Regions from separate parts of the Homo sapiens genome. Here regions 1 and 3 are each linked to region 2. Evidence: fine-mapped expression QTL. A gene starts in region 2. Each other region holds a variant in brackets. All regions are shown on one strand. Distances are between the middles of the regions.

Evidence for each region.
Region 1: its variant is fine-mapped to the expression of DPP3 in whole blood (TOPMed, PIP above 0.99).
Region 3: its variant is fine-mapped to the expression of DPP3 in activated CD8 T cells (Schmiedel 2018, PIP 0.95).

The regions. Positions count from the first base shown.
Region 1 is chr11:66,763,406-66,766,165 of GRCh38, forward strand. The region is part of intron 2 of TOP6BL (TOP6B like initiator of meiotic double strand breaks); the gene reads left to right. Among named protein-coding and RNA genes, the nearest start is that of TOP6BL, 20 kb to the left of the region's middle. The variant C/T (reference allele first, on the strand shown) is at 1,238.
Region 2 is chr11:66,479,083-66,481,842 of GRCh38, forward strand. It overlaps DPP3 (dipeptidyl peptidase 3), which reads left to right and starts at 1,352. Exons shown (of 18, transcript NM_130443.4): 1 at 1,352-1,383. It overlaps DPP3-DT (DPP3 divergent transcript), which reads right to left and starts at 1,167. Exons shown (of 4, transcript NR_120586.1): 1 at 957-1,167. RefSeq lists enhancers at 178-745, 1,322-1,491 and a silencer at 1,132-1,181.
Region 3 is chr11:66,451,974-66,454,733 of GRCh38, forward strand. It overlaps the pseudogene LOC100505524. Among named protein-coding and RNA genes, the nearest start is that of PELI3, 14 kb to the right of the region's middle. RefSeq lists a silencer at 460-653. The variant CTATTTATT/C (reference allele first, on the strand shown) is at 1,476.

The DNA.
Region 1 (2,760 bases), 280 kb after region 2:
GTTTTATTTTGAGCACATTTAAAAACTAATTGTGGAGGAAAAGTAATAAAAAATGAGATTTTAAACATTATTATTATTATTATTATTAGAGATGAGGTCTCACTATGTTGCCCAGGCTGGTCCTGAACTCCTGGGCTCAAGCAGTCCTCCCACCTCGGCCTCCCAAAATGCTGGGATTACAGGCATGAGTCACTGCACCTGTCCTATTATTATTTTTGAGACAGGGCCTTGCTCTGTCACCCAGACTGGGGTGCAATGGTGTGATCATGGCTCACTGCAGCCCCAAGCTCCTGGACTTGAGCCATCCTCCAGCCTCAGCCTCTTGAGTAGCTAGGGTCACATGTGCACACCTCCATGCCCAGTTACTTTTTAAATTTTTTCTAAAGATGGGATCTCACTTTGTTGCCCTGGCTGGTCTCAAACTTCTGGTTGGTCTCAAGCTCTCATGCAACAGCCTCCCAAAACGTAGGGATTACAAGTGTGAGCCACCCTGCCCAGCCAAGATTTTTATTTTAGCTCCAGAACATTCTGTGAGCATTTGGTAAGAATGTTCTCCCTTTAGTATTAATCACAATGATAATTTATTGAGCATTTACTATGCATTAGGCCTTGTGCTCCACTTAAAGGTAGTTATAGTAGTGAACAAGACAGATTTGGTTTCTCCCTTTATACCCCTAGTGAAGATACCTTAATTATTCTATTGCCTCTTTAAGCCTATGCCTAGAAAAAAGGGAATATCAGCTATTGTCCTGAAGAGTTTGCTCTGATTCTGAGACTTTTGGGAGATCTGAATCCAAGTTCAAGAATCATGGGCTGACTGCTTCAAAAACATCTAATTATTTATAAGTTTTTCCTTGTTCATTTTTGAATTATTGTCTTTGGGTTGATGCAGAGAAGGGAAAGATCATTCCTAGTGGCCCTGCTCCTGTTAATGTCTGTGAAATTGCTTTGAAAGAAGTGAAAATCGGCCGGGCGCGGTGGCTCACACCTGTAATCCCAGCACTTTGGGAGGCCTAGGCGGGCGGATCACAAGGTCAGGAGTTTAAACCAGCCTGGTCAACATAGTGAAACCCTGTCTCTACTAAAAATACAAAAAAAAAAAAAAAAAAATTAGCTGGGGGTGGTAGTGGGCACCTGTAACCCCAGCTACTTGGGAGGCTGAGGCAGGAGAATCGCTTGAACCTGGGAGGCGGAGGTTGCAGTAAGCTGAGATCATGCCACTGCACTCCAGCTCGGG[C/T]GACAATGCGAGACTCCATCTCCAAAAAAAAAAAAAATAAAGAAGTGAAAATCTGGCCAAGCATGGTGGCTCTGACTAAAATCCCAGCACTGTGGGAGACTGAGGTAGGCAGATTGCTCGAGCCTTGGGCAGCATGATGAAACCCCATCTCTACAAAAAATACAAAAATCAGCCAGGCATGTGAAAATCAGCTAGGTGTGCCTGGGGTCCCAGCTACTAGGGGGCTGAGGCAGGAGATCCATTTGAGCCCAGGAGGTCAAGTCTGCAGTGAGCTGTGATTGCGCCACTGCACTACAGCCTTGGTGACAGAGTGAGATCTTGTCTCCAAAAAAAAAAAGCTATATAAATGGAGTATATTATTAGCACTAGGGAGGAGATAGGAGCATTCCTTGCAAAATAAACCCACACTTAATGTGCTTGTACAAGGAGTGGTCAGATCATATATAAGGCTACTTGTTTGACTAATATTTGTGAAAGTGCTTTGAAAAAAGTGAAAAGCCGTGTAACTACAAGAGAATAGTTTTATTATCATTGTTACTCTTAGGGAGTATCATTTATGGGTTATCATTTATGGAATAACCACATACTCATGCCAATACAAACTCTAGACAATTTTTGTCATGGTGACTTAGTTTTAATTTAACTGTTACTTTAAAAACTCAAAGCAATTTCATTTAATCCTTATTGTGATAAAGTGTGAGTGGCTAACTCTTCGTACAAAGAGGAAGTACTGCACATCAAGTACATAATTAAAATTGAATCATTTGCTCATGCTCAATCACATTTAGTAGCCAACTGTAGCCTAAGTCTTCTCTCCAGTTGTTAGGGCTCTTAATATTAACCTCCACTCAATAATGCTAGTTATTCTTTTTGTTTGTTTGTTTGTTTTTGAGATGGAGTCTCACTCTTGTCACCCAGGCTGGAGTGCAGTGGCGTGATCTTGGCTCACTGCAACCTCTGCCTCCTAGGTTCAAGAAATTCTCCTGCCTCAGCCTCCCAAGTAGCTGGGATTACAAGCGCCTGCCACCACGGCCAGCTAATTTTTATATTTTTAGTAGAGATGGGATTTCACCATGTTGGCCAGGCCTGTCTCGAACTCCTAACCTCAGGTGATCCACCCGCCTCGGCCTCCCAAAGTGCTGGGATTACAGGCGTAAGCCACTGTGCCTGGCCTAGTTATTCTTACTAATTAGTAACAAAAATTACTCAGTGAACCTCACAAAGGAAATTGGTGAAGAATAAGACAGGAATCCCTTAGCTCCCTGGTTTATGCACCATTAATTATGCCTTTTTTACTATTATTATTTAGAATTTCTGACACTATTAAGCTAATAGCAAACTGCTTTAAATTGGTCCATTTACTGATCTTTACACTGTTTAGTTAGCTTCATCAGGGAGTCTCTGGCAGCTGGATTCATTACTCATCAGTTTTCTAGATGCTAAAAAATTGTGTATCTATACAAAGTTAATATGTCTGTAAATTCAGTTTAACTCTGTTGTTTTCTTCATTATTTGGCTGATTT
Region 2 (2,760 bases):
GGGTCTTTTCCTTGCCTGAGCTGCCCCCTGCTGGCAGTGGGCAGCACTACCTCCCTTACCTGTGCACATTTCAACTTCACCTGTCAGCCAACTTTATACCCATTTTAAAGACAATGAAAACGGAGGCACAGGAAAGAAGAGGGGTGACTTTCCTAAGGACACCGACCAACTTGTTGAACTCCCCCATATAACAAGTAATCATCAAAGCTAACAGCTTGTAACACTGTTGTGTCAAGCAGGGCCTTGGGCACCTTTGTGGATGAGAAACTGGTGTCTATGGTAAGCAGAGGCTGTCTGGCCTAGACACGGGCGTAGCAAGGAGACCGTGCGGGATTTCAGTACCCAAACGCCCCTCACCCTGCGCAACTATAGGGAGCGGCACTGCAGTCAACACATCACAACTTACAATATCCCTTGGATTGGATTCAATTATTAGCCTGGTTTTCCGGTTCATAAAGCCAAGACTCCCAGACAACCTCACTCCACCCCCCAGTCTGACCCTGGGCCCTCACCACTACTCCCCATTTGGCCTAGGCCCTTCCGCATGCCCCACCCAGACCGTGGTCCCGTGAGTCCGTCCAGACCTGTAAAAGTGGACCGCGGGCCCGCCTCTGCTCTGGACTCCCTTTCGGGGCCGCAGGAGGCTTTCTCATCCATCAGGCATCTGGCAAGCACCAGGAAACTACCAGCCTGTTTGTGCTAAGGAAACTGAGGCTCGGGAATGTTTAGCGGCTCCTTCCAGGCCCGTGGCGGGTGGGTGGTGGTACAGTGAAGCAGTCGAGGCGTTTCTCCGCGCCCCTACACGGGTGGGACCACCTCAGCCCTGGCCCGATCCCACTCAACCGTAGCCCCGATTCCCGGCACCGAGAGCTTTGCAACTTCCAAGTCTCCACCCCCAGGTCCCGAGTCCCGAGAGGAAGGTGGAGCCACATTACTCCTATTGTGTAGGTTCCCACCTGCAAGAGTGCTGTCGGGTCCTCTGAGGTGAAACCCCAAAGGAAAGCGGGATCGGGACTGGGGGAGGGGGATTCCCAAGTCCCTGACACCCGCGCCGTCTCGGCCTGGGCTTGGTGACCTCGTCAGTCCCGTCTGCCGGGACTAGGCCGCGGCCAGGCCGGGCACAGCGGTACCCGGTCCGGCGCGTGTGCGGCCTGCTGACAAAAGGCCGAGCCCGCAGGGCCAATCCGCGCGCCACCCCGTAGCGCCTGGGGGCGGGAGCGGGCGAGCCGAGAAGCTCGTCTTGGCGCGTCTATTGGCTGGTACTGACGCCCATCCGGACCCCGAGGCCAGGCAGTTGGCCAAGGGGGGCGGGGTTCGCAGAGCCCCAATGAATGGGGGAGCCGGAAGCAGGAAGTGAGTTTGCGAACGGAGCAGCTGCTGCAGGTGAGGCGCGGCGCCTGGGCTTTTGGGGTCAAAGCGTGTCATCCCGGGGGACCAAGGCGAATCCATACTGAGCGCAAAATCGTTCCCTTTCTGCCCACTCTCCAGTACCCCCTCCAAATTCACCCCGCCCTCGAGGCCAAGGAGTGCTCCGGGGAGCAAAGAGTTAACAGCCCTTTCCGAACCTCGAGGCTGTGCTATTGGGGCGGGGCTTCTGGAGGCCGGGGCAGGGCGAGGAGGCTGGACACTCTGTCCCAGCCGGGACGGGGCGTGGCGGGGAGAATGCCCCGGGTTGGGGAATCCCCGGGTTCCAACGGGGCTGTCAGACCTTCAGTAAATTGTTGCCCTTTCCAAGCCTCAGTTTCCCTATCTGTAAAATGGGCTTTCTTCTGGTTGTGAACTTCTGTGGCTTCCCTGGTGGAGCACAGGGAGCGAGCAGGAGAATGGAGGGCCAAGGAAAAGGCATTTAGAGGGATGAGAATGGGACAGTTTCAAGCAAAATCATTTATTGCTGTGGATACTTTCCGTCCAGGGCGACTTCATCTGATTAGCGCACCCACCTGGTAATATTGGGGTTATTCTCTCTTTTATAGAGGAGGAAACGGAGGTACAGAAAAGTGAAGCAATGGACTTGACTTTTAGGAGTCTGGGGCCGAGTCCTGGCTAAAGGCTGAGCCTTCCAGCTGGCGGCCTGGCACTTTATCCTTGTGAGCACAGTGGAAAGTGTAAAGAATTCTGAACAAAGGCCAGGCGCGGTGGCTCACGCCTGTAATCCCAGCACTTTGGGAGGCCAAGGCAAGCAGATCGCTTGAGGCCAGGAGTTCGAGACCAGCCTGGACAAAATAGCGAGACCCCGTCTCTATCAAAAATACAAAAAATTAGCTGGGCATGGTGATGCACGCCTGTAGTCCCAACTACTTTGGAGGCTGAGGCAGGAGAATCGCTTGAACCCGGGAGGCGGAGGTTGCAGTGAGTCAAGATCATGCCACTGCACTCCAGCCTGGGCAACTAAGTGAGACTCCGTCTTAAAAAAATAATACTGAACAAGGAAGCAGGGAGGGGCCTGGGCTGGGAGCCTAGAGATGAGGATCTCTGCTGCTGATGTCTCCATTGTGGGATTAGGCAAGGCTCTTAGCCTCTCTGAACCTCAGTTTCCCCATCTGTAATACTAGGTAGTTAGAGTCAATCAATTTTTTTTTTTTTGAGGTGGAGTCTCACTCTGTTGCCCAGGCTGGAGTGCAATGGTGCGGTCTCAGCTCACTGCAGCCTCCACCTCCTGGGTTCAAGTGATTCTCCTGCCTCAGCCTTCCCAGTAGCTGAGATTACAGGTGCCTGGCACCAAGCCTGGCTAATTTTTGTATTTTTAGTAGAAAGGAGGTT
Region 3 (2,760 bases), 27 kb before region 2:
TTAACTCAAAGATGGCCACATTCTCCCTGTGTCTTCACAAGGTCTTCCCTCTGCTCTGGTGTCTCTGTGTGTCCAAATTTCCTCTTCTGATAAGAACATTAATCAGATTGGATCAGAGCCCACCCTAATTGGCCTCATGTTAAGTTAAATCAGCTCTTTAAAGGCCCTCTCTCCAAATACAGTCACATTCTGAGGTACTGGGGAGCCAGGGCTTCAACATATGAATTTGCAGGGGTCGGGAGACACAATTTGGCCCAAAATAGGCATGTTCCCCAGCCTGGGGGACAGGGAAGCAGAGGGAACAGCAGAGGTACAGGATAGTGTGGGGCAGGAGGGAGGGGCACATGCTGTGGTGTCAGTGGAGGGTATGGTGTGAGGTAGGGAGTATCAGGCTGGAAATGTTGGCAGGGGCTGGATCTGAAGGGCCTTGAATCCTGCACCAATGAATGTAGACTAGCTTGCAGAGGGGTGAATCTCAAGTGTCAGTGCACCGCAAGATTGCCTGGGACATTGTGACAAGTGCAGGGATCCTTGGAGGGGACATCCTAGAAAGCTGCACTTTAATCAGTATCTCAGATGGACCAAGACCCACCCTCAGCAAAGAAGATGCAGGTGCCATTGACGAGATGTAAACAGGGGCTTGACACTGGCTCAGTTGGAGAGGATAGATTGGAGGGGCAAGAATGGAGACAGAGAGGCCATCAAGGGGGCTGTCCTGAGTGCCCAGCCAAGAAATGATGAAGTCTGAATTGATACTAATAGTGGTTGACTTTTAGAGAGTGTTTAACATATGCCATGAGCCAGGCCTGAGCTAAGCACCCTTCCTGGGTAATCTTACTGATTTCTCACAACAGTCTTGTATGGTAGGTATCTTTATTATTATTACTACTATTATTTTGAGACAAGGTCTCACTCTGTCACCCAGGCTGGAGTGCTGTGGCACAAACATGGTTCATGCAGCCTCGATCTCCCAGGCTCAAGCAATCCTCCCACCTCAGTCCCCCAAGTAGCTGGCACTATAGGCACATGCCACCATGCCTGGCTAAATTTTGTGCTTTTTTGTAGAGACAGTTTTGCCATGTTGCTCAGGCTGGTCTCAAACTCCTGGGCTCAAGTGATCCTCCTGCCTTAGCCTCCCAAAATACTGGGATTACAGGCATGAGCCACCACACCCGGCCAGTGTCTTTATTTATTTATTTATTTATTATTATTTTTTAAGATGGAGTCTTTCTCTGTCACCAGGCTGGAGTGCAGTGGCGTGATCTCGGCTCACTGCAACCTCCGCCTCCCGGGTTCAAGCGATTCTCCTGCCTTAGCCTCCCAAGTACATGCGCATGCCACCACCCCCAGCTAATTTTTGTATTTTTAGTAGAGATGGGGTTTCACCATGATGGTCTTGATCTCTTGACCTTGTGATCTGCCCACCTTGGCCTCCCAAAGTGTTGGGATTACAGGCATGAGCCACCGCGCCTGGC[CTATTTATT/C]TATTTATTTATTTATTTATTTATTTATTTATTTTTGAAATGGAGTCTCATTCTGTCACCCAGGCTGGAGTGCAATGGTGTGATCTCAGCTCACTGCAACCTCTGCCTCCCAGGTTCAAGCAATTCTCCTGCCTCAGCCTCCTGAGTAGCTGGGATTACAGGTGCCCGCCACCACGCCCAGCTAATTTTTTGTATTTTTAGTAGAGATGGGGTTTCACCATATTGGCCAGGCTGGTCTCAAACTCCTGATCTCGTGATCCACCCGCCTCAGCCTCCCAAAGTGCTGGGATTACAGGCGTGAGCCACCACTCCCAGCCTCTTTATTTTTATTTCATAGTTGAGAAAACCAAGGCTCAGAAAGGTGAAAAGACTTGCCCAAGGTCACAACTAGGGAGAGTTGTCTGTCTGTGTGTCAGGAGAGGCAGAACCTAGATCTCAGCCCTGCCTCTCTGGACAGTTGCAGAGGGGATCGCAAGGTTGATGGGAGCTGTGGGGACATAGTAGGCAGGACTTTGTGACAGGTTGAATGTGGGCAATGGCAGGGGTGGGGTATGAACTACTTGCAGGCAGTTCTGGGTCCCTAACTCTCCATGTCACCAATCAAAGGTCAAAGGGAGCCCAGCCTGGGTGTGGGGCAGAAGCAGAGATGTTGGCGGCGTGAAGCTCAGGAGTATACATCAGAGAAAGCCAAAAGCCAGCTGGAATAGTTCCTGAATACAGTTTTAACCTTGCTTGCAATTATTTTGAAGGGGAGAAATCATCTGGATTGGAATTAAGATGCTCTGGTTTCAAGGAAATAGCATGCAGCTTGCCAGATCCTCCCTTGGACTCTTCTTGATAAACTGCTCTGTCTCTAAGACAACTCTGCCCGTGCTGACCTTATTCACAAAGGACCCACGCCCCCTTTGTGGTGAAGCCAAGGAAGTACTCAAGCCTTATAGTAACAGGTTTATTTTACAGGAAGTGAACGTCACACTTCCAGAAAACTCTGCCTGGTATGAAAGGTATAAATTTGACATTCCTGTCTTTCACTTGTGTGGCCAGTTTCTGATGATGCATCAAGAAAACACCTCAAAACTTGACAAACAGCTCCTGAAACTTGAGCAGCAAAGTACCGGAGGCTGACGAATGCCCTCATGATTTTCCACCCTCTCTTCCTATACGGCATCTTCCTAAGGAAATGACCATGGCCTGATACTCCTTTTGTCACCTATACAGAGCCCTAAGGATATTCTGAACTCAGTGGTGCCAAATAAATGTTGACATTCCTCTTTTGG